Linked DNA regions of Homo sapiens. The protein of the gene in region 3 purifies or fractionates together with the protein of the main gene of each other region. This does not show direct contact. Each region holds a gene or a part of one and is shown on either strand. Other genes may lie near its edges.

What was found.
Region 1: the proteins of OXCT1 (region 3) and KYAT3 fractionate together in Homo sapiens (co-fractionation; one large-scale study listed by BioGRID). This does not show direct contact.
Region 2: the proteins of OXCT1 (region 3) and SPRYD4 purify together in Homo sapiens (co-immunoprecipitation; one large-scale study listed by IntAct). This does not show direct contact.
Region 4: the proteins of OXCT1 (region 3) and AADAT fractionate together in Homo sapiens (co-fractionation; one large-scale study listed by BioGRID). This does not show direct contact.
Region 5: the proteins of OXCT1 (region 3) and MDH1 fractionate together in Homo sapiens (co-fractionation; one large-scale study listed by BioGRID). This does not show direct contact.
Region 6: the proteins of OXCT1 (region 3) and TXNRD2 fractionate together in Homo sapiens (co-fractionation; one large-scale study listed by BioGRID). This does not show direct contact.
Region 7: the proteins of OXCT1 (region 3) and SGSH fractionate together in Homo sapiens (co-fractionation; one large-scale study listed by BioGRID). This does not show direct contact.

The regions. Positions count from the first base shown.
Region 1 is NC_000001.11:88,947,630-88,951,129, forward strand, and holds part of KYAT3 (kynurenine--oxoglutarate transaminase 3), read right to left. Parts: intron 1,649-3,500; coding exon 1,462-1,648; intron 1-1,461. UniProt on the Homo sapiens protein: Catalyzes the irreversible transamination of the L-tryptophan metabolite L-kynurenine to form kynurenic acid (KA), an intermediate in the tryptophan catabolic pathway which is also a broad spectrum antagonist of the three ionotropic excitatory amino acid receptors among others.
Region 2 is NC_000012.12:56,475,078-56,478,577, reverse strand, and holds part of SPRYD4 (SPRY domain-containing protein 4), read right to left. Parts: coding exon of another isoform or gene 3,395-3,500; 3' UTR 2,955-3,394; coding exon of another isoform or gene 2,896-2,954; 3' UTR 2,634-2,895; coding exon of another isoform or gene 2,601-2,633; 3' UTR 919-2,600; coding exon of another isoform or gene 860-918; 3' UTR 646-859; coding exon of another isoform or gene 482-645; 3' UTR 396-481; coding exon of another isoform or gene 316-395; 3' UTR 1-315. Other genes in the region: GLS2 (glutaminase liver isoform, mitochondrial isoform 1 precursor), read left to right, coding at 316-395, 482-645, 860-918, 2,601-2,633, 2,896-2,954, 3,468-3,500.
Region 3 is NC_000005.10:41,731,996-41,734,425, forward strand, and holds part of OXCT1 (succinyl-CoA:3-ketoacid coenzyme A transferase 1, mitochondrial isoform 3 precursor), read right to left. Parts: intron 1-2,430. UniProt on the Homo sapiens protein: Key enzyme for ketone body catabolism.
Region 4 is NC_000004.12:170,083,457-170,086,956, reverse strand, and holds part of AADAT (kynurenine/alpha-aminoadipate aminotransferase, mitochondrial), read left to right. Parts: intron 1-1,963; exon of another isoform or gene 1,964-2,208; coding exon of another isoform or gene 2,209-2,232; intron 2,233-3,500. UniProt on the Homo sapiens protein: Transaminase with broad substrate specificity. Has transaminase activity towards aminoadipate, kynurenine, methionine and glutamate. Shows activity also towards tryptophan, aspartate and hydroxykynurenine.
Region 5 is NC_000002.12:63,602,463-63,605,962, forward strand, and holds part of MDH1 (malate dehydrogenase, cytoplasmic), read left to right. Parts: intron 1-2,233; coding exon 2,234-2,410; intron 2,411-2,817; coding exon 2,818-2,931; intron 2,932-3,476; coding exon 3,477-3,500. UniProt on the Homo sapiens protein: Catalyzes the reduction of aromatic alpha-keto acids in the presence of NADH. Plays essential roles in the malate-aspartate shuttle and the tricarboxylic acid cycle, important in mitochondrial NADH supply for oxidative phosphorylation.
Region 6 is NC_000022.11:19,910,819-19,914,318, reverse strand, and holds part of TXNRD2 (thioredoxin reductase 2, mitochondrial isoform 5 precursor), read left to right. Parts: intron 1-2,871; coding exon 2,872-2,942; intron 2,943-3,500. UniProt on the Homo sapiens protein: Involved in the control of reactive oxygen species levels and the regulation of mitochondrial redox homeostasis. Maintains thioredoxin in a reduced state. May play a role in redox-regulated cell signaling.
Region 7 is NC_000017.11:80,213,834-80,217,333, reverse strand, and holds part of SGSH (N-sulphoglucosamine sulphohydrolase isoform 1 precursor), read left to right. Parts: intron 1-141; coding exon 142-302; intron 303-2,195; coding exon 2,196-2,301; intron 2,302-2,568; coding exon 2,569-2,719; intron 2,720-3,005; coding exon 3,006-3,162; intron 3,163-3,448; coding exon 3,449-3,500. UniProt on the Homo sapiens protein: Catalyzes a step in lysosomal heparan sulfate degradation.

The DNA.
Region 1 (3,500 bases), on a different chromosome or scaffold from region 3:
GACCTCCCCTGGAGCCCCATCAGGGAACAGCTAGAGTTTACAGCCACTTTCCAGAGAGACAGACCTGAAGACCAAATTATAGGAAAATCATAACACCTTACTTTTCTGAAATTTGCTAAGATGATAATGAACTATTACAAGTAAAAATTGCTAGCATCAAATGCTTATAGTAAGAAAGAACTCAGCCAGTGGCTCATGCCTGTAATCCCAGCACTTTGGGAGGCTGAGGCAGGTGGATCACTCATTAAGCTCAGGAATTCATGACCAGCCTGGGAAATGTGGCAAAACCTCGTCTCTAAAAAAAATTTAAAAATTAGCTAGGTGTGGTGGTGCATGCCTGTGGTCCCAGCTACTCAGGAGACTCAGGTGGCAGGATGGCTTGAGCCCAGGAGGCAGAGGTTGCAGTGAGCTGAGATCACGCCACTGCACTCCAGCCTGGGTGACAGGGCCAGACCCTGCCTCAAACAAAACAAAACAAAACAAAACAAAACAAAACAAAACAAAACAAAACAAACTCCTATGTGAAGGATGTAAAGTTAAAAAATATGATCAATGTTTTGCTATAAAATTGAAAATTTCCTTTACTCTTTCCAGCTTTATACAATTTAGTATAAATAAAACACTTCAGTTTTTCAAGTTCATTGGCATATAACTTCATTGTAATAAAATTTTAAAACATTTAAAACTATATTTAGAATGGCTGTAATTTCTGTCATGATAAATTAGGCTTCAAGGTTTACTATTACTAATTTTTTTAAAAGAAAAGTTATATATGACACATTATCATGCTTCTAACTTTAGATTTGTATGGCATGTCAGAATTACATATAACAGCTTTAGGTAATATAAAAAACAATGCTTTTTGGAAACAGAACTATTTAGAATCTAGCTGTGTGACTTCAGGGAAGCTATTTAAAACTTTCTAAATCTTTTTACCTGCAAAAATGGAGCTAATGTTTTCTTCAAAAGGGTGTTTTGAGTACGTGGCACAAAGTAGACCCTCAATAAGTGTTATTCTCCCATTTATTTTATTTCAGTACATTCTAAAATGGCAAATATTCCCTGATAGCTTCAAAATTTCTAGATATTTTTCTAATGAAATAGTACATTTTGTTAAGTAAAAAGGAAACTACAATTTTACTCAAATGAACACTGAGTATATAATATTATTTCACACACTTGTGTTTTAAAATTACACACCAGAAGAGAGTGATAGCAAATCCTATGTTTAATAGACTAACTAGAACAACACTGACTCCATAACCATTTAACAATGGTCACATTTAAGGTAAAAGGCCTAAAAGTAAAGATAATTATAGAAAATGTAGACATTGCAAAAATCCATCCTTCTCCACAGATAAAATGCTGCTGTGGCTTTGACACCAATCTTTTCTCCATAATTCTGATATAATTTCACACATAAGTTTCCGTATAGTTGAAATAATAAAAGCCTTTACAAACCTAGCAAAGACACATCAGCGATGATGAAGTATCCTCCATCAGGAACTATGGGTTTTAGGCCAACACTTTCAAGTAAACGTACCATCCGATCTCTTTTTACTTCTAACTCTTTTGGCAAAGAATTAAAGTAACATTCTGGGTCATCCATGCGCTTGATGTCAATCCAGAAAGCTTGAGCCAAGGCTTCCTGTTTGTTAAGAATCAAAAAATATGAAAAGGCATATGGCAATGTTATTTATTGCTTAGTTTATTGGTATAATAAATAGAGATGATCTGAGTAAAATTATTGGCAAAGAAGTCACTCAGGAAATAACAGTTGAATTCCTGTGAACCTATATTAAACTCTATAGGTTAATGGAGGAATCAGTTATACCTAAATGATTAAATCTCATGTGAAGAACTGAGAAGGAGTCCTGAAAATTCAAATTGAAAAAGAGCTGTTACTTAAAGGTGGCTTGCTTGGAAACAAAAAGACATTAAGATATTTTCTGCTGAGGTGAGTTGTAGAATGACTTGCTAAATCTAAGTCAGAAGAACAACCAGAGAGTAGTCAGCCTCTCACCATTACATTTGGGGACAGAGTGGAAATGAAAGCTCACCTACTGTGCAAAGGAGAAATGTGCCTTTCTTATTCTCCATAGGTGTGGAAATCCTTGCTGGAATTATTCATATGCCAGGAAGTTGGTCAAAGTGTAAGAGGGACTAGAAATGAGTTTCTGGAACATCTACAGTAATTCCTCTATCTTTCTTCAAGAGCCAGGACAGCAAACTGGGCCAAGGAAAAAGCCAATGTTGTTAAGTATAGTGGACTGAATGTTTGTGCCCACTCTCATATTCATATATTAAAATAGTAAACCCCAAGGTGATGGTATTAGGAGGTGGGGCCTTTAGGAAGTGATTAGGACAGAAGGGTAGAGCCCTCAGGAACAGGATTAGTGCCCTTACAAAGGAGGGTTAGCTTGCTCCTTCCACCATGTAAGGACACAGCAAAAGGCACCATCCGTGAAGAAGCATGTCCCCACCAGACACCAAATCTGCTGGTGCCTTATCTTGGACTTTGCTGCCTCCAGAACAGTGAGAAATAAATTTCTGTTGTTTATAAGCCACCCAGTCCAACTAAGACATTAAGGACCAGGCAGGTAAGAGAGACTGTGTGGCAAGAGATGAGACTGGAGACAGAGAGGGGCAAGATCACAGAGATTTTATGCCAAAAGAATGCAGTAAAACAGAATTAGTAATAAATCTCCAGTACTACAAAATCTTGGAAAATAAGGATCGATTGCCTTAGCCTGGAAATCTGTGGTTTCCTGGAACCAAACATGGTTGTCCCAGGACAAAACAGAGCACCTAGCTGAAATGGAGAATAAGAGTGTTCAGAAAAAGATGTTCTGCATTCTTAGCTATATCTTTTTTTTTTTTTCTCTTGGCAACTTGTTCATTTACTATAGGAGATACTGCCTTAGAAAATTCCAAGTATAAGGAGACATAAACATCCATCCTAACTACAGCATTATCCTGGACTCCTTTCTTTTTCACATATCCCATATGTAACCTATTGACAAATAATGTTGGCTCTACTTTCAAAATATATTCAGAGTCCAATCACTTTTTACTGCTTCTACCACCCCCATCTTTGTTCAATGCACTGGCATTTCTCTCTTGGATCACTGTAACAGCTTTCTCACTCAATGAGGCAGTCAGAGTCCATTTGCTAACACAAGCCAGACCAAGTCACTCCTGAGTTCAAAACTCTCTAGTGACTTCCTATCTCACTCAGTCCTTACAGTGACATGCATGCCCCAGCTCCATTGGACTCCCAGCTACCTCTCTGATCTTAGCTTTTCCTACTCTTCTCTCAATCATTCCATTCCAGTCTCTGTGCTGTTCTCTGATATTAACATGCCAGCCAGGCTGTCTACCACTGGGCCTTTCCGCTTGTTCTCTCTGTCCAAAGGGGTTTTTCTCTAGGTAACCATGTGGCTGCTTAATCCCCTTCAGTTAGTTGTTCAAATGTTACCTTATCAGGGAGGCTTTCAAAG
Region 2 (3,500 bases), on a different chromosome or scaffold from region 3:
ATCGAATAGAGCCTTCAAAGGGATTTATAGGGTAACTGAGCCTAAGAACCAAAAGGGGAAGGTTGCCTCAGAATTCTCCTTTTTTAACTTCCATTGGCTTTACTGCTATCTCTACAGGATTGCGGATACACAAAGATATGGCCTTCTAGGACTTAAGGCTCGGGCATTTCTGGGAGCAACAGGCAGGAGGGAACCCCTCTGCCCTATAGAAGACAGAATTTTAGCTTTTATCTAAAAGATTCTCTTGACCCTCAACCTCAACTCTGTTCCTCTTCTCCACATCCATCTCCCTTTTCTCTACCCACTCATGTCCAGGTGGCAGCCTACATCCCTCAGCTGGCCAAGTCAAACCCAGACCTGTGGGGTGTCTCCCTGTGCACTGTGGATGGTCAACGGTGAGATGCTGGGCAAGAGGAAGGGGAGGCAGGGCACAGGTGCCGAACACAGGCCAACCCCTTTCATGGCATCTGTCTGCCTCCAGGCACTCTGTGGGCCACACAAAGATCCCCTTCTGCCTGCAGTCCTGTGTGAAGCCCCTCACCTATGCCATCTCCATAAGCACCCTAGGCACTGACTACGTGCACAAGTTTGTGGGCAAAGAGCCAAGTGGCCTGCGCTACAACAAGCTCTCCCTCAATGAGGAAGGTGAGCACTACCAAGGCTCAGACCGTACTTACAGCTGTCCCCTTCTCCTTATCCCCACCCCATCTCCCAGCCTTTTTTGTTTCTCTGCCCTTCCTGATTAGCCCTGTCATGCCTTTCTCCCTAGCAGTCTTTCTTGTCTAACCCACAAAGTGAGCGGGCTGTCAGGGAGGCTTTGTTCAGTGGCTAAGACTCTTGGTGGTTTGTATTTCCCCAGGAATCCCCCATAACCCCATGGTCAATGCTGGTGCCATTGTTGTCAGCTCCCTGATCAAGGTCAGTGCCACCTTAACCTTCTGATAGGTATTATCCTCTAAGCTCCTGTGTTCCTGTATCCCTCATATTTGTTCAGCTCTCCAGGGAGACTGGTGGGGCTCTGATTCCTTTGAGGGTCCCCAGAAGGCACATGAGGCACAGCAGGGACCCACATGTTATGCTGACAATGTCAGTATAAGAGACTGCACCACCTCCGTCATCCCCACTCAGTACTGTTCCCTGCCCCCACCCATGAGTCTAGAGCCTAGAGCTTTCTGACCCTTAGAGAAGTGAGCAGGTCCTGACCCCTGCCTAGGACCAAGGGCCAAATGCCAGAGACAAGGGGAGGACAGCACTATTGGGCACTGATTGGCCACTTCTGGGTGTGGGACACCTGCAGGCAAGGGTGAATGGCCAGGCCAGGGCAGTTATTCACGTCACCTGGAACTGTGAGTTGGCCTTGAACAGGGTGTCAGACTAGCCCATCAGCTGTAGGTCTCCCAGGGCTTGAGCAAGAACCTGGGAGCAGCTGGGCAGCAACACCCTGGAGCCAATCACAGCCCCTCCTGGGGAAGGTGGTGTTAGGAATCCTCCCCTCAGGGACTCAGGTATCAGAGTCCCTGTGGTATTGACTCTGTAGTTGACACATGAGTAAGCAATGAGTCTGGGTGAGGAAAAGAGGCTGAGTCTCTCCCCTTGTTCTGTGATGGCTCCATCTACAAACCTGTATCTGGGACCTGCCTCATCCCATTCCCATCTAAGTAGGACCTTTTTTAAAAAATATAGAGGCCAGGCGCGGTGGCTCACGCCTGTAATCCCAACACTTTGGGAGGCCGAGGTGGGCAAATCACGAGGTCAGGAGATCGAGACCATCCTGGCTAGCACGGTGAAACCCCGTCTCTACTAAAAATACAAAAAATTAGCCAGGCTTGGTGGTGGGCACCTGTGGTCCCAGCTGCTCGGGAGGCTAAGGCAGGAGAATGGTATGAACCCGGGAGGCGGAGCTTGCAGTTGAGCCGAGATCCTGCCACTGCACTCCAGCCTGGGCGACAGAGCAAGACTCCATCTCAAAAAAAAAAAAAAAAAAAAATTGAGGCAGGGTCTCTCCTATGTTGCCTAGGCTGGTCTCAAACCCCTGGTCTCAAGCGATCCTCCTGCCTCAGCCCCCCAAATTGCTGAGATTACAGGCATGAACCATCATGCTGGCCAATGGGATGGAGTAAAGCTCCAGCATGGGGTGTAAGGAATGGGGATGGAGATCAGGGATAGGGTGGGGCTAGGAGACAGGATTCGAGTCAGGAAAATGAACGTGGGAGTCAGGGATGAGGGTTTGGATTGAGAATGGAAGTGGGATGGCCCAGCAAGCTGGCTCATGCCTGTAATCCGAGCTACTTGGAGGCTGAAGTGGGAGGATCGCTTGAGCCTGGGAGGTCAAAGCTGCAGTGAGCCATGATCGTGCCACTGCACTCCAGCCTGGGTGACAAGGGTGACAAAGCAAGACTGTCTCAAAAAAAAGAAAGAGAAAGAGAGGAGCCAATGGAAGTGCGGTGTTTTCAGAAGGATAAAAAAAGGGCCATTATAAAATTGAACACATTTGCAGCAGCAGGACCAGACTAACACTAGAACTCCACTAGATCCTTCTGACCCTTCCCTCTGTCATCCTCCTACACTTAGAATGCTGACATCTCTCTCTTTCTCTGCAGATGGACTGTAACAAAGCAGAGAAGTTTGATTTTGTAAGTTCCCTTGCTACTTAGCCCCTGGCTGCATTTCGCCATGGCATGCTGTCCTCTCCAGCTGCCCCAGTGGCTCTCTAACCCCACTACCAGGTGCACCAGCCCATACTAGAAGCCTTATTTCCAGAAATGTGGAAATCTGCTGGCCTCAGAGAGGAAAGCCTCTTGACAAGACCTGAGTTCAGAAGGGCTAGTCAACCTGTGAGGTATTAATAGAGCTTCTTAACCAAGTGGAGCCTCAATGTCCCTTTTTCTCTTCCAGGTGTTGCAGTATCTCAACAAAATGGCTGGGAATGAATACATGGGTTTCAGCAATGCCACGTAAGTCCCTACTCAGAGGACTGACTGAAAGCATTGTGGTGTATGTGTGTGTACTTAGGATGGGGACAAGAGGAATGGGGGAGAGAGAATCTTAGGAGGAAGAAATCCCAGGGGAACTTTGGCCCTCCAGCTTCCTCTGAGTCCCTTCATAAACATTTGTTTATCTTGTAAAATAATTTGTTCCATTTCTAATTAGTACATAATGAGAGAGGCAGTGTGATGGTTTGTGCCTAAGCCCTTTCTTGCCAAGACTTTCAAAGCCAAAAACTTCACCAGTTTTCCTAGATGACTAGACAGTTTGGGGTGTTTGGTTTGGGTTTACTTTATAACAAAACTATGCTGAGTGTTTGCTCAGGTTCAGAAATTTCCTCTAATATTACTGTGAGAAGTTATAAAGGGGTTCATTTAGTTTGTGGTGTGATGTAGTTCTGTCTCTCCAGGGAAGGTAATTTTTCCCCTTCTCCCAACACCCACTCCTCCAACTTCAAGTACTAAATTGGGTGTTTGCTTCAGATTCCAGTCAGAGAAGGAAACAGGGGATCGGAA
Region 3 (2,430 bases):
AGGATGAACAAGGCTGGCAACAAGGAGCAGGTGGAAGAGGAGCAGAGGAAAACAAAGGATCCCAATAACCAAGCCCCCTGTCAGATGGATCACTGATCTCCGAGACTGATGCCTCTGAGACTTCACTTAAGACGCAGTACAAACCCCAAGTCTCCAAAACCTCAAAATAGATCCAGCCAATTCATAATTTTGTTGAAAGATGCTTTATGTAATCTTTGGATTACCTAAATACATATTAATGAAGAGACGTATGATCAATGATAAATCTTATCGGAAATTTCATAATCAGAATAGAAATGATACAAAGGCAATAAGAGGATTCCAAGTTATTAAAATATGGAAGTAATAGCATTAAAACAATTAAATGTTGATTATAATTATGTTCAGTGTATAAAACAGTCAATGCTTTCCTGCGAATCTGCAAGCAGAGAAAAGTGACAATGAATGTATATTTAAGGTAGAGCCGGTTGCAGGAGAACCATAAATATAAGTGGTCAGTTTAACTGAGACAGATTTTTCAAAGTGTGGTACCAGGTTCAGATTCCTTAATTCAACATGGCAAATATTGATTGGGTTCTAGTTAGTAACAGTCCCCATGGGAAGCAGGAAATACCAAAAATTGGGTGCTTTTTGAAATTCTGAAAGATGTGGCAATCAAAATGAGCCCAATTAGCATTTTACCTTCCAGAATAAACAATATTTTCTTAAATTGATAAATGAACAAATGAATGAATAAGTAGATAATTATATAAGTTTCAAAGAACTAGAAGGGAGGTTCCTAATAGAGGTTAAATCATCAGTATTAAAAACTGAAAGAACAGGCAGTCATTTGGCTTTCATAAGGTTAAATAGTTTTAGTTCATTTATAAATGTCTGCATTAGCTCTTCACAATTAACTCTTCATAGTATCAAGAGTTAATGTCTTGTCTTCCATTTTTGTACTAAAATATTAAACCAGAATGGCAAAAATGTCTACTAAAAGAATAAATAAGAATAAACAATAATAATAAAGTTCAGCATGATTTGGTATATAGCTTATGGTAAATGAGAACGCATTATGACTTATTTCTAAGAGTAGACATACAGACAAAATAAACAGAATAAGTAGACAAAAAGTAACATCACACATACGCACAGATTTTCAACTCTACTAATAATAACATTTAGTATTTAGATAAGTATATCTCACAGTTCATTTTCTTTCTTTTTTTTAAACAACAGAGCATCTGTGGAAATAATTTAGTGAAACTTTTTTTTTTTTTTTTTTTGAGACGGAGTTTTGCTCTTGTTGCCCAGGCTGGAGTGCAATGGCGCGATCTTGGCTCACCGCAACCTCCGCCTCCTGGGTTCAAGCGATTCTCCTGCCTTAGCCTCCCAAGTAGCTGGGATTACAGGCATGTGCCACCATGACCAGCTAATTTTTGTATATTTAGTAGAGACGGGGTTTCTCCATGTTGGTAAGGCTGGTCTTGAACTCCCGACCTCAGGTGATCCACCTGCCTCAGCCTCCCAAAGTGCTGGGATTACAGGCGTAAGCCACCGTGCCTGGCCCAATTTAGTGAAACTTTTTTACTACAAATCATTTTCTATAGATGCTTCATAGCACTTCCTTTAAAAAGAAACTGGACACATTAATTTTTTTAACTAAACATCTGATCCTTTTCCTTGTCATGTCAGCCCTATTTTGAGCTCTTAATGTCATTTACATTCTCAATGTGAAAAATGACATCAAAAATAAGATAACGCTTTATATAGACTGACTTTGCCTGCTTTTTAATGAAAAACATCTACTAAACCACCATTTCTCATTCTGTTCTCCCAGTCTCATCAACGTTGTAAATTCATGCAAGCCAAAGGAGCTTATTCTGCCAACGTGATCTGCAGGCTAAGCACAAGGTGACATGATTTAGCTATAGAAGACAAGCCAATGATTTGTCTTCCCAGTGCATTAATATCCCAAAAGTATATTGCTTGACTCTGGTAGAATGCCAGTTCATAGTAGATACTGAGAGTATAAATTTATTCAATTAGGCAAGGAATGTCTGCAGCTTCTTTCAGATTCCACTGCAAACATATCAACAAACATTGCTTTTACTAGTTTTTTATTTGTTTGTTTGTTTTGCCACTGGTGGTTTAGGTATATTCCTGCCTGGAGAATAAAGCCAAGGCTCTTGGGAGCAAGAACCATAAATTGGTTCTATTTTATTCATATTTTACAGCTCAATATGGAACATACATTGGGTGTATGACTAGTGACATCTGGAAGTTTATTCTAACACATAATGTTTAAATATGGAATACATTTTTAATTTTTTAAGTTAAGAAGATAAAATCAAAGAAATATTGTTTCAAAAGAGGTCCACAGACATATGGTTTATAAAAACACCTATTTTACATAGCTTAAGCATTCATCAGAAAAGAAACAACCCA
Region 4 (3,500 bases), on a different chromosome or scaffold from region 3:
AGGATGGGGGTGGGAGCAGTTGTGGCCGGGGATGGGCAAGGGTGGGTAGGGGGTGTTGACTGTAAGCAAAAGCCAGGTGGAAATATTGTAGGTTGATCTATCAATATTTCCCCCTAGTTTTCCTCATTGTGAACACAAGGACTTTGAAAAATTACCTGCTCTTAACATCATTCACTAGCCTAATCTTTCTTAAATATTAAATACAGAGCATGTGGTCAATTACCCAGACCTATTAACCATTAAAGCAGGATGCCCACTAAGGGAGTACTCAACTCCTACCAAAAGCTTAGTGAACACTGCTTAATTTCATCTGGCTCAAAAATTCAAGTTACGTTTGATTTCCGCCTATAGTTAGGAAATTTCAATACAATTTTTAAATTTTTTAGAGGGCATGCTTTCATATTCCTGAGATACACATATTTATATTCTTTTACATATCTGTCTGTAGAATCTCTCCTTGCCACTGCTTGTATCTTGTCCCCCTCTTGGGTGTATTTCTCTAGATCTATTTATATGTCTGTATTTCTGACTTCTTATATGGATTGGTTCTCTCTCCCTCTCCCCCTGGCATTAGTTATTCCATCTTCTTCCCTTCTGGGTTCCGGGAACTCCACAGATGTAAACACCACTGGTTAGTTGCCACAATAAAGAGACCACATCTGTGGTCCTCAGTTTGATCTGTTATTTTCTTTTCTTTCTTTTTTTTTTTTTGAGACAGGGTCTCACCCTGTCACCCAGACTGGAGTGCGGTGGCGCAATCACGGCTCCCTGCAGTCTCGACCTCCCTGGGCTCCAACAATTCTTCCACCTTAGCCTCCCAGGTAGCTGGGACTGCGGGTGCACACCAATATGCCTAGCTAATTTTTATATTCCTTTGCCATGTTGGACAGGCTGGTCTTGAGCTCATGGGCTCAAGCAGTCTGTCCACCTTGGCCTCCCAAAGTGCTGGTATATTTTCTCCTTTGTTTTCCATGAATAATAAGATTCTCTATATTCATTCTCAGATCTAAATTAATCTATGACTCCCATTTATCTTTATCTTAAACCAGAGTAGTTTTCTTTTTCATGGAAATATGAAAACTGTAATCTGGTTTGCTTTAATGAATTTTAATTAAATTATTGTTACAGAATAATGGGTTACAGTAGTAAAAACATTTTTTAAAGTTTTTAAAAATTAAAAAAACTTACCCTTTTTGTATTTAATTAGGAAAAGTAAAAGAATTAGCTAGTGTTTGAGTCTTTGCTTGAAGAGAAACATTTGTGATTGTATAGAATGATATAAGAGTATTTTTTAATGAAATAAATTCTTTCCTCAAGAAAGGATACTATGGACTTTTTCTTCCAGAAAGTTGCTCAAGACAGTTTCTTCTTTATCCATCACAACACCAGTTACACAAAAAAGGAAGATAGCATAGATTGCTAAATACGTCAATAACTTACTACTTACAGACATGCTTATTATAGGGGCACTAATATGTATCTGGTTTAATATTTCTTCCACTTTGTTCTCCAGGAGTCATGTTATTTTAGACTCCTGTGTTTCTCTCTCATCTTTTAAACAGTGCTCCCAGATGATAAACAGCCTTCCCTTCTAATTTAGGATATTTGAAATTTGTATGTCCCCTAACTGATATGAAAAATATATTTACAGTTGACCCTTGAACAACGCAGGGGTTTAAGGGCAATGACTCCATGCAGTTGAAAATCTGCATATAACTTTTGACTCCTCCAAAACATAACTACCAATAGGCTACTCTTGACCAGAAGCCTTACTGATAATATAGTCAATTAACACATATTTTATATTTTATATGTATTGTACACTATATTTTTACAATAAAGTAAACTAGAGAAAATAAAATGGTATTAGAAAGTCATGAGCAAGAGAAAATATATTTACCATTAAGTGGAAGTGGATCATCATATAGGTCTTCATCCTCATCTTCATGTTGCTTAGGCTGAGGAGAAGGAGGAAGAGGAGGGGTTGGTCTTGCTGTCTCACGGGAGGCAGAGGCAGAAGAAACTGTGCGTGTAAGTGAACCTGTGCAGTTCAAATCTATGTTGTTCAAGGATCAACGCTAATTAGGTTTTCATTTGATCTGTTGATATGTACGTGCTGCCACCCAAGTGATTCCTTTGGTCCTAGGATGTCTTGTAAAGCTTAAGTCAATTAGAAACTTTTCGGAGGAGGATACTGTTTGTCATAAGATGCCAAAAGCTCATAAGGAAAAGGTAAATTCAACATCACAGGTCAGTTGGGGAACAAAAGTCAAATCTTCTATCTCAATTGATAATGGCCCTACTGTTTGTGGTGAGATGTGGGTTGTTAAAGTGATAGGAAAAAGGACTCAAACTGGGGATTGTGAAACATCACAAGTTAAGAAGCAATTATTCTGTGACTTATGTATGATTTAGTCATAATAGACCCCTTTGATTTAGGCTGGAAAAATCTATTGCCTGGCTCTAGTGATTGTAGTAGAAATCATATTATCCACATAATTTACAAAGATTGTCAAACCTTTTATTACTTGACCTAGAAATATTCTTTAACTCCGTTGATCTCCCCATCCATTTTATTTTAAAAAATTAATTTTTAATTTTTTCTGTTGCCATAAAATACACATATAAGATTTGCTATCCTTGCCATTTTTAAGTATACAGTTCAGTGGTAATAAGTACATTTATATTCTTTATTTTTCCTTCACCCTATCTCCCTCCTGTCCTTTCCAGCCTCTGGTAACCACCAATCTACTCTCTATCCTTATGAGATCCACTTTTTTAGCTCCCACAGATGAGGGAGAACATGCAATATTTGTGTTTCTATACTTGGCTTATTTCACTTAACATAATGACCTCCATTTCTATCCATGTTGCTGCAAATGACAGGATTTTATTCCTTTTTTATGGTTGAATAATATTCCATTGTGTGTATACCACATTTTCCTTATCCATTCATCAGCTGATGGACACTTAGGTTGGTTCCATATTTTGGCTATTGTGAATAAGTGCCATAATAAACATGGAGGTGCAGATACTTCTTTGATATATTGATGTTTTTGTTTTGGATATATACTCAGCAGTGGAATTGCAGGATTATATGGTAGTTCTATTTTCAGTTTTTTGAGGAACCTCTGTACTGTTCTCCATAGTGGCTGTACCAATTTACATTTCCATTAAAGTGTATAAAGGTTCCCCTTTCTCTACCCTCATCAGCATCTGTTATCACTTGTCGTTTTGAAACTAGCCATTTTGAATATGGTTAGGTAATATCTCATTGTGGTTTTGAGGTTTTTCTGATTGCATTGGTAATATTGAACTTTTTTAATGCCTTTTGGCCGTTTTTATGTCTTCTTTTAGAAATGTCTGTTAAGATCTTTTGCCCAATTTTTAATGGGATTATTTGGGGGTTTTGCTATTGACTTGTTAATCCCTTGTCAGATGGGTAGTTCGCAAATATTTTCTCCTCTCCTGTAGGTTGTTCTAGTTCCTTGAAGTGCATT
Region 5 (3,500 bases), on a different chromosome or scaffold from region 3:
TAACTACAGAGTATTATCAAAACCAGGAAGTTGATGAACTACACAATACTATTAACTAGACTTACTGAAGTTTCACCAGTTTTATATTCACTTATTTTTTTCTGTGTCTTTATGAATGATTCTATGACATTTAATTACAAGTGTAGATTCCTGTAACTGCCCCCATAGTCAAGGTACAGAATTTCTTCATCACTCACAAAAGAACTCCTTCATACTCTCCCTTATGGTCACACCACCCTCTGTCCCTGACATCATTTTTCTGCACTCCACCTCTATAATTTTGTCATTTTGAGAATTTACAAAAGTGGAATCATGCAGTAAGGAACCTTTTGAGACTGGCTCTTTTTCACTCAGTTTAATGCCTTTAAGATCCATCCAGGTTGTTGTTTGTTTCTTTTTGTTGTTTTTCCACTTACCCCTTTTATTTATTCCATTGCCTATGTAAGACATAATACAGTTTATTTAACCGTTCTTTTTTTTTTTTTTTTTTTTTTTTTTTTTTTTTTTTTTTTTTTGAGACAGAGTCTCGCCCTGTCGCCTAGGCTGGAGTGCAATGGCACGATCTCGGCTCACTGCAACCTCCGCCTCCCAGGTTCAAGAGATTCTCCTGCCTCAGCCTCCTGAGTAGCTGGGATTACAGGCACACGCTGCCACACCCAGCTAATTTTTGTATTTTTAGTAGAGACGGGGCTTCACCGTGTTGGCCATGATGGTCTCCATCTCGACCTCCTGATCCTCCCACCTCGGCCTCCCAAAGTGCTGGGATTATAGGTGTGAGCCACCGCGCCTGGCATATTTAACCATTCTTGAACGACATTTGAGTTGTTTCAGTTTGGAGCTGTTATTACCCTTATTTTAAAATTTTCCTTAAAATATCAAAGTGTATTCCTTTTCTTACATGGTAAATACTCAAATGCTTTATTTATGTGTGCTAAAGCTACAGACTCTGGCACAACTAGTTTCTTCTCCCATTCTTTTTGGGACACAGAGGAAGGAAGAATTGCCCACAATGTCACCAAAACAGATCAGCTTCTTAAAATATTTTTCCACATTCCCTTCTGGTTCATCATAAATTCTGTTGTCTAGTTAGGAACAAATTATACATATACCTGATCATAATTTATTTTCTGCACATAAACTTATCAGACAAATAACAAGCAGGCTGATTTTATTTAAATCTACCAAGACATTTCTTTTTTTTTTTTTTTTTTTTTTGAGACAGTCTCGCTGCATCGCCCATGCTGGAGTGCAGTGGTGCGATCTTGGCTCACCGCAACCTCCGCCTCCCAGGTTCAAGCGATTCTCCTGCCTCAGCCTCCCAAGTAGCTGGGATTACAGACATGTGCCACCAAGCCCGGCTAACTTTGTATTTTTAGTAGAGACAGGGTTTCTCCATGTTGGTCAGGCTGGTCTCGAACTGTCAACCTCAGGTGATCTGCCCGCCTTGGCCTCCCAAAGTGCTGGGATTACAGGCGTAAGCCACCATGCCCAGCCCAAGACATAACTTTCTAACCTTTTTTGTGGCTACTGTACTACATGTGATTGCAAGGCATTGCAGGACCCTAAAGTGCTTTCTGGAGTTATAGCTAGAGATTGTTACATATGTTATAATTTTAGAGTGTATATATGTGTGTACACACACACACATACACATATATAAAACCTCTTTCCTTCAGTTTCCTGATATATAAAATGAGGACAGTCATATCTTGGTAATTTGAGTCCTATCCAACTCTAAAATTTCATATTTAGGGTTATTTGAAAATTAATTTCTATATGGTATATAATAAAAATTTTACCTAAATATAAAGTGCCTAAATACCTGATTACTCAGAAGCACTGAGAAGACATCTCCAAGTAAACATTAACAGTGAAACAAAAGATCACATTTACATATTCAAGAAATAGTAAATTGATAAATAATAGTAACGATTAATGTTTTATGTTTGATACACCTACTGTACTAATAAGTTAACCACAAACTATGGGATGCTTCATACCCTTAAACATTCTACTCCATAAGGTTTCAAGTCCACAGTTGTTACCACTGTTAAGCTGTTGTAGGAAATTGCCAAGCAATAAATTTACATTTTTTACAAGTCAATATAACTCTTGTGTTCTCTTGAAATTTCAGAAGCTTTTTATCTTTATTTAAGGGCATTTGTCAAAACAGGTCCCAATTGGAAATAAAAACCATTTGTCTCAGTAATGTATTTGTTTTCAATTTAACTAGATTGCTCTTAAACTTGGTGTGACTGCTAATGATGTAAAGAATGTCATTATCTGGGGAAACCATTCCTCGACTCAGTATCCAGATGTCAACCATGCCAAGGTGAAATTGCAAGGAAAGGAAGTTGGTGTTTATGAAGCTCTGAAAGATGACAGCTGGCTCAAGGGAGAATTTGTCACGGTAAGAAAAATCTGTGAGCCTTCTTAACACTGAGCGTAAAGAACTCTTGAGAGACTCTTAGGACAGAAAACCTTAAAGAGGGCAGGTCTTTCACAGTTGCTCTGATGACTGCATACTTTCGGGATCATAGTAAGCCAGTCATGATCTAGTGTGATCTGATGTGACAGCAGTTGAGATTTATACCAAGATCCATGTCTTTGTCTGACCTATGATAAACTTTGTATGGAGATACATAGTTTCCTTTTTCCAGAAGGATTGGTAAGGCTGACATTGGGTTGTTGCATGATTTTGGAGGGGAAACATTAAGCTCTGGTCATAGCTTTTCACCCCAAGGTCGACTTGGAATTAATGAAAACTTTGCTATCATGACCAAGTAATACTGCTGCCTTCACCTGCCCCCTTCCCAGACTGTGCAGCAGCGTGGCGCTGCTGTCATCAAGGCTCGAAAACTATCCAGTGCCATGTCTGCTGCAAAAGCCATCTGTGACCACGTCAGGGACATCTGGTTTGGAACCCCAGAGGTAAGGATTTAGTGATTTGCACAGGTCACTCTATTTTATTTTTGTTGCCTGATGATATAATATAAAAAGAATATAGCCTTAGCAGTCAGTCAGGTTAGGTTCATTTCTCAGCTCAGCTGCCTATTAACAAGTAAACTTCGGGGTTTGTTAGCCTTGACCTTTCTGAGCTGTTTTGTCATCTTTTACATGACATTACTATTATACACAGGGTTGTGAGGGTTAAAGGAGATTGCACATGGAAAACACCTGGCACAATGCCTGATACATAGTAGGGGTGAATTTTTTTCTTCTATGCCACAGCTTCCTCATCTGTAAAATGAGGATTAGGTTTCCCTGGCCTACTTCACATATGATATGGAAGCGTGGAATGAAATAATATCCATGAAAGTTACCTTGTCACCAGTACCTGGTGCTGATGATAGTTCCTTACACAGTAATGATGTTATGAACATAGTAAGAAAGGGTCACCTGGTTTAATTTTATTAGTTCATGTGTCAGTTGTGTAAACTAATCATCATGAGTATGTGAAACATTGTTATTTTCAGGGAGAGTTTGTGTCCATGGGTGTT
Region 6 (3,500 bases), on a different chromosome or scaffold from region 3:
AATAGTGCCGCTGTGAACATCTGCAAAGAAGTTTTTTGGTGGACTTCAGTTTTCACTTCTCTTGGGTTACACTTAGGAGCAGAACTGCTGGGTCATGTGGTAACTTTATGTTGAATCTTTCAAGGAACGTTTCAAGGAACCTCAGACTGTTTTCCACAATGACTGTGTTTTACATTCCTTCCAGTGGGGTGTAAGGGTCATGGTTTCTTGTTTCTTCACGTATCTTGTAATTTTTTTATTGAAAGCTGAACATTTCAAATAATTTAATGCGATAACTTTGGAAACCAGATTCTCCCTCTGCCCCAGGATTCTGTTGTTACAGCTGCTTATTTGGTGACTTTTCGGAACTGACTTTGTAGACTCTTATTCTTTGATGTATGTGGCCACTGAAGTCTTTACTTGGTTAGCTTAGTGGTCAGCTAAGAACTGCATGGAGATTTCCCTAAACTAAGAACTCTCCCGGTCTTTGCTGAGGGCTCTGTGTGCGTTTGGAGGGGATGCCTTCCACACTCAACAGGCAGCAGACAGCTCTGCCCTAGCCTTCACTTCCTGCTTCTGCAGAGATCAAGGTCAGCTGGAGGTGAGGGTTCAGGGCCTCGTTGGTCCTTCCTGATGTGTGCACAGTGCTGTGCATGCGCCTGGCCTAGGTTCCCAGGAATATGCTGGAACCTTTCAAAGCTCCAGCAGACATCTCATACTTTGGCTTTTCCTTTGAAGCTTTTTGGGCAGTCTGTTGTTGGCTCTAACTGTTACCTATCCCCTCAGGCAGCTGTGAGAAGAAAACCTCAGACAAATGCCCCCAGAGAAAGGCTTTTAGCCCTGGCTGAGCTCCGGTGAAGTTGGATGAAGATGACCCTATAGTTGCTGACTCTGACTCTTCTTTGTGGGGGGGCTTTGAAAGACCCCAGCTGAGTTCTGCTCTCTCTGACACATCACTGTTCAGGGCTGCCGCTGAGGTGGGAGTGGGACCAGAGTGAGTTAAAACACCCTGGAGTTCCCATTCTCACTCAGCTTCAGCTGTTTTTCCTGACTTTAAATGTTCCCTGTGTTGCTGCAAGCCTGTGGTTAATTTCCATAATTCTGAATCTCCCAGTTCTTGCCAGTTTTATCGCTGTTTTTAACAGAGAGGTGAATAACTCCTGGCCCAGTCTTGTGGGTTGTGGGGGCAGAGTTGAGGAAGGGGCCCCGGGGTGAGGGGTTGGGGGGCAGCTGCAGCAGGGAAAGCAAATGGGCTGGGGGTGAGCAGAGAGGTTTGGCTGAGACCAGTCCCCACGGGTCTCCCAGGGAACCGTGTGCCGCCTGCTCCAAGCCTCTAAGTAGGCTGCAGCCAAGCTCTTGAAGACCACGGCTCTCTCGGCCTGGAGGCCACACCACCTCTGACTTAGACCCAGGGGCAGTCCGGTGGAGGCAGAGCAAGGGGAGGTTCTGCCACTTCTTGGATGTGACCCCAGCCTCCACTTCGTCCTGTGCTTACTGTGGAAACAGGGAAAGGAGCGGCCCCGAGGAGCACAAGCACCCCCAGTCCTTAGAGGCCGTGGGACTTGTCTGGCCGCCAGGCAGCCACAGCAGCCTCTAGAGGGGGCAGGTTGCTTATGCACAGAGGTGGGGCTCAGGGCTGCGTGACTTTGTAGGATGACACTGTGCAGTTGTTCAAGGCAGCTGCTGCAGACAGGGTCCCAGTGATCCCCTCTCCTGGCAGCTGGGCTCATGGTGGTTCTGCTTAAAGAAGGCCACAGCCAGCTTCCAGCAGCCCAGCGGTCATTGGGTTTCTCTGAGGCCCCAGGCAGAGCTGCACGTGCATCCGCACCAGGGAGCACTGCACAGGGGCCCTGGCCTGGCCCGGCCCTGCTCTGCACCTCACGGGCAGCTGCTGACGGCTCTTTGGGCTCACAGGGGATCCAGCAGGCGCTCCTGGTCCTTAGGAGGCAGGCAGCTCAGGGCTGCTTCGCTCTCCCTGCCACGCCCTCCCAGGGTGTCTGCCAAGGCTTGCTTGCGTTTTAGTCCCTTTGATTGCCAGACCTTTCGGTTTTCCTTGAGTAAACCTGAGAAATTCCTGACTTTATTTTTTTTTGCCAGTTGGAAGCATAAACTGTTTGAGATCCGCTTCCTCCACCAGCACATCTTGTTCTCATGGCCGCTAAGGGGACGTTCACCCTGGGCCTCCCACCTGCTTGGCCGCCCCTCTTCAGGTGACCTGTATGATTTCTGGGCTCAGAGCCCACCCGGGCCAGCCCTCGAGAGTGTGAAGTCCGTCCTGGCTTCAGCCAGGTGCCCTCAGAGCTGCCCCTCAGTCCCTGCCCACCTCAGCCTGTGGCACTTACCCCCTGTGCCTCCTCTCCTCTGGCTGGCCTTGTAGGCCACCCCTGCCGCGCAGACACACCTGAGCTCTGCTGGCCCTGATTTGCTGACCTGTTCTCTCCCCACTTCCTCTCTCTGAGTTTGGATCCCCCAGAACCCAGGTGTTGCTCCCTGGGGCTGCATGCCCCTGTCTGTTTGATGTGTCTGTCCAGAACCCGGGCAGACTTGAGGGGTCCCAGCTGTCTGCCTGTATGGCCCCTGCAGTTGCTGTACCCACCTCAGGCCCTGTATCCTGCTCTGAACCAGGGTCAAGGGGAGGGTCCTGGGGAACAGAGGGGAAAGGTACCCTGCGAGGGCACCGGGACCTGGAGTGCAGCAGCTTAGATGCAGACAGGCCACCTGCAGCCCCAAAGAGGCCACAGCCTGCAGACAAGGACTGGCAGCAGGGAAGCCCTGTGCATGTGTGCCCTGGGAAAGCTCTGCTTGATTCTGCAAAGCTGGCATCCTCTTTAAGGAAGCCCTAGGACAGGCCAAATGGAGCTCTTGTCCAAGGGGTCATTTCTGTCTTGACAGATCGAAGGTGCCTTGGAATATGGAATCACAAGTGATGACATCTTCTGGCTGAAGGAATCCCCTGGAAAAACGTAAGGCCTGCGCGTGCTTGGTGGGGTCCTCTTTTTGTTCACCAGAGTGAGCACTGGACCCTTAGAGCCTGTGCTGGTGCTGGGCTCCTGGGGCTTTCTTTCCGGTTTACCCAAAAGAAGGAAAAAAGGCCTGTTATTTGTGGCCAGGTGTGGTGGCTCATGCTTGTTAGCCTAGCACTTTGGGAGACTGAGCGGGAGGATTGCTTGAGGCCAGGAGTTCGAGATCAGCATCAGCCTGGGCAATATAGTGAGACCTCTACTCTACAAAAATCTGTTTTGGTTTTTTTTTTGGCTTTTTTTTTTAGGTGAATTCTCACTCTGTCCCCCAAACTGAATTGCAATGGCCCAATCTTGGCTCACTGCAATCCCTGCCTCCCAGGTTCAAGTGATTCTCCTGCTTCAGCCTCCAAAGTAGCTGAAATTACAGGCGCCCACCACCACATCTGGCTAATTTTTGTATTTTTAGTAGAAATGGGGTTTCACCATCTTGGTCAGGCTGGTCTTGAACTCCTGACCTCAGGTGATCCGCCCACCTCGTCCTCCTAAAGTGCTGGGATT
Region 7 (3,500 bases), on a different chromosome or scaffold from region 3:
GCTGAGTGTTCACACTGAGCCAGTACCATGCCCACCTGGGTGTCTCGCCTTCTGGCATCACAGTCCCAGCCTCCCTCACTCCCAGTGCTGTTTCTCGTGACCGCAGCCGACCGTGCACTCTCTGTCTCCCACCTCACGCAGCGGATGACGGAGGCTTTGAGAGTGGCGCGTACAACAACAGCGCCATCGCCACCCCGCACCTGGACGCCTTGGCCCGCCGCAGCCTCCTCTTTCGCAATGCCTTCACCTCGGTCAGCAGCTGCTCTCCCAGCCGCGCCAGCCTCCTCACTGGCCTGCCCCAGGTGAGGTGCAAGGGGCGGGAGGAGGGGGTGGGCAGGGAGTAGACAGGCTGCGTCCGGGGCCCAGGCCTCTGCCACGTCTCCCATCCCTGGGATCCCGGGGGGTGTTGCCCACTTTCCCTCCCACCTCCAGGAGGAGGCACAGCCTATGGCTGTGAGTGCAGACTAGGGGCTCCGACTCACCCGCCAGCCCTGGCTGCACTGCTGTGTGTGGCCTTGAGCAAGTCACCTACCTCCTTGTGCCTCAGTTTCCTCATCTGTAAGATGGTGGGTGTAATGAGATGCCACTCTAGTTATGGAGATTGGCGGGGCTAATGCTTTGTATGTAAACACTTAGTGCGAGGCCTGGTGGGCTCACTCAGCGTGAACCGCCATGGCCACAGTGTCCCAGGAACGCCATGGTGCAGGGAGCGGACACCGTTAAGGCACACATGCTCCTATTTTACTGTGGTAAAATGCACAAACATCAACATTCCCATCTTAGCCATTTTTCAGCGCACAGTTCCGGGGCATTAAGTGCATTCACAGTGTTATGCAGCCATCACCACCATCCATCTCCAGAACTTTTCCATCTACCCAAACAGAAGCTCTGTCCCATGAAACACCAGCTCCACATTCTCCCTCCCCATCCCCTGTCTCTATGAATCTGACTGCTCCAGGGGCCACATAAGAGTGGAATCACACAGGACTAGTCCTTTTTTTTTTTGAGTTGGAGTCTCACTCTGTCACCCAGGCTGGAGTGCTGTGGTGCGATCGTGGCTCACTGCAGCCTCTGCCTCCCCGGTTCCAGCGAGTCTCCTGCCTCAGCCTCCCGAGTAGCTGGGATTACAGGTGCGCGCCACCACGCCTGTCTAATTTTTGTATTTTTAGTAGAGATGGGGTTTCATCATGTTGGTCAGGCTGGTTTCGAACTCCTGGCCTCAAGTGATCTGCCCGCCTCGACCTCCCAAAGTGCTGGGATTACAGGCGTGAGCCACCGAGCCCGGCCCCCCTTTTGTGTCCTTACTTCACTCAGCACAATGTCCTCAGGGTTAACCATATGCTGTAGCACGAGTCAGAACTTCCCTCCTCTTCAGGGCTGACTCATATTCCAGTGGATGGATGGGCCCCGTATTTTGCTTCTCCATATTCATCCGTCAGTGGGCACTTGGGTTGCTGCTACCCTTTGGCTGTTGTGAATAAAGCTGCTATGAACATGGGTGTTTAAGGACACTTGTTCTTTTAGTCTCACTCTGTTGCCCAGGCTGGAGTGCAGTGGTGTGATCTCGGCTCACTGCAACCTCCACCTCCCAGATTCAAGCCATTCTCCTACCTCGGCCTCCCGAGTAGCTGGGACTACAGGCGCCCGCCACCACGCCCAGCTAATTTTTGTATTTTTAGTAGAGACGAGGTTTCACCATGTTGGCCAGGCTGGTCTCCATCTCCTGACCTCGTGATCCACCTGCGTTGGCCTCCCAAAGTGCCGGGATTACAGGCGTGAGCCACCACGCCCGGCCGGCAGTCTGAGTTTTTAAAATGTACACATCTTTTACAATATAAAATAACTAGGTAATAAAACAAGGCCTGACCCTGTCTTTTTCACTCTGTAACGTGTGATCATAACAGAAGAGTTCAAAAGTACGGATACGCAAAAAGAACATCAAGGCCACCCTCGTGTCGGTGCACGCCCTGCAGGTCCCCTTCTTTCTGGCGAAGTCCTCCTTTCACGGGAGGGACCCATGGGCCTATCGGGCAGGGAGTGGGAGGTACAGCCAGTGTCTCTGGGTGCTGGCCACTCGAAGTCTAAATCAGGGCCCCGAGAAGGCCCCTGGGGATGGGAGGGCCGTGGGAGAACAGGTGCGGCAGGCGGGCTCTGGCTGTCCGGGGGCCCCGGACCTCATGCGCCTTTGCTGGCAGCATCAGAATGGGATGTACGGGCTGCACCAGGACGTGCACCACTTCAACTCCTTCGACAAGGTGCGGAGCCTGCCGCTGCTGCTCAGCCAAGCTGGTGTGCGCACAGGTGAGGACCCCGTGCCGAGGACAGGGCGTGGGGTGAGGCACAGAGGCCAGGCCAGAGCCCAGGAGGTTCGGCACCTTGTACCAAGGCACGCTCAGCCCCCGTGGCCTGCCCTTAGCTCTTGTCCCAAAGGATCTGGGCCTGGGTCTCCTGGCTGGGCTGTGTGTCCACGAGAACCCACAGTGCGCTTAGGGCCGAGAGGGGCAGAGAAGGGAGCAGAAAGGGTTGGGAGGCTGAAGGGACTCTGGCCAGGCCTCTCTTCCCGCCCAGGCATCATCGGGAAGAAGCACGTGGGGCCGGAGACCGTGTACCCGTTTGACTTTGCGTACACGGAGGAGAATGGCTCCGTCCTCCAGGTGGGGCGGAACATCACTAGAATTAAGCTGCTCGTCCGGAAATTCCTGCAGACTCAGGATGACCGGTATGAGTCGGGGCCCCTGCCCCTTCCCCCTGGCGGCCGGTACCAGAGCACAGCCCGGAGTCTTCCGGCGGGATGCATGGGCCCCCACGTGGCTCGAATGGGGGCAGGGGAGAAGGTTCCAGGTACTCGAGTTAGCCTGGTCAGAGGGAGAAGGGACGTGGGGAAACTGAGGCAGTGAGGGTCACAGGTTGACTTCCAGATACAGAGGAGGAGGCAGAGCCGAGGGGCTTCCTGTGCCACGTGGCAGTGGCCCCGCAGCCTTGGCAATGAGCCTCCTCCCGTGCAGGCCTTTCTTCCTCTACGTCGCCTTCCACGACCCCCACCGCTGTGGGCACTCCCAGCCCCAGTACGGAACCTTCTGTGAGAAGTTTGGCAACGGAGAGAGCGGCATGGGTCGTATCCCAGACTGGACCCCCCAGGCCTACGACCCACTGGACGTGCTGGTAGGACGGCCCCTCCTGTGTTTCAGGACGCCCGTCAGCCCTGGGTCGGGGACCCTGGCCTCCTACGAGCTTGCAGCCCTGGCCCTAGATGATGAAGAAAGAGGCTCTGACCAAATCGGATTCAGGTTCCCAACCTCGGGGCCACAGAGAGAACCGTAGAGAGACGGGGTGGTCCGGAGTGAGGCTGTTCTGGGCTAACCCATTTGCAGGAGGCCCCGGGGAGAAGGCTGGACACCGCTCCCCCGGTCTGTCTGTTCTAAGCCTGGCTCCCCACCGCCTGCCCCAGGTGCCTTACTTCGTCCCCAACACCCCGGCAGCCCGAGCCGACCTGGCCGCTC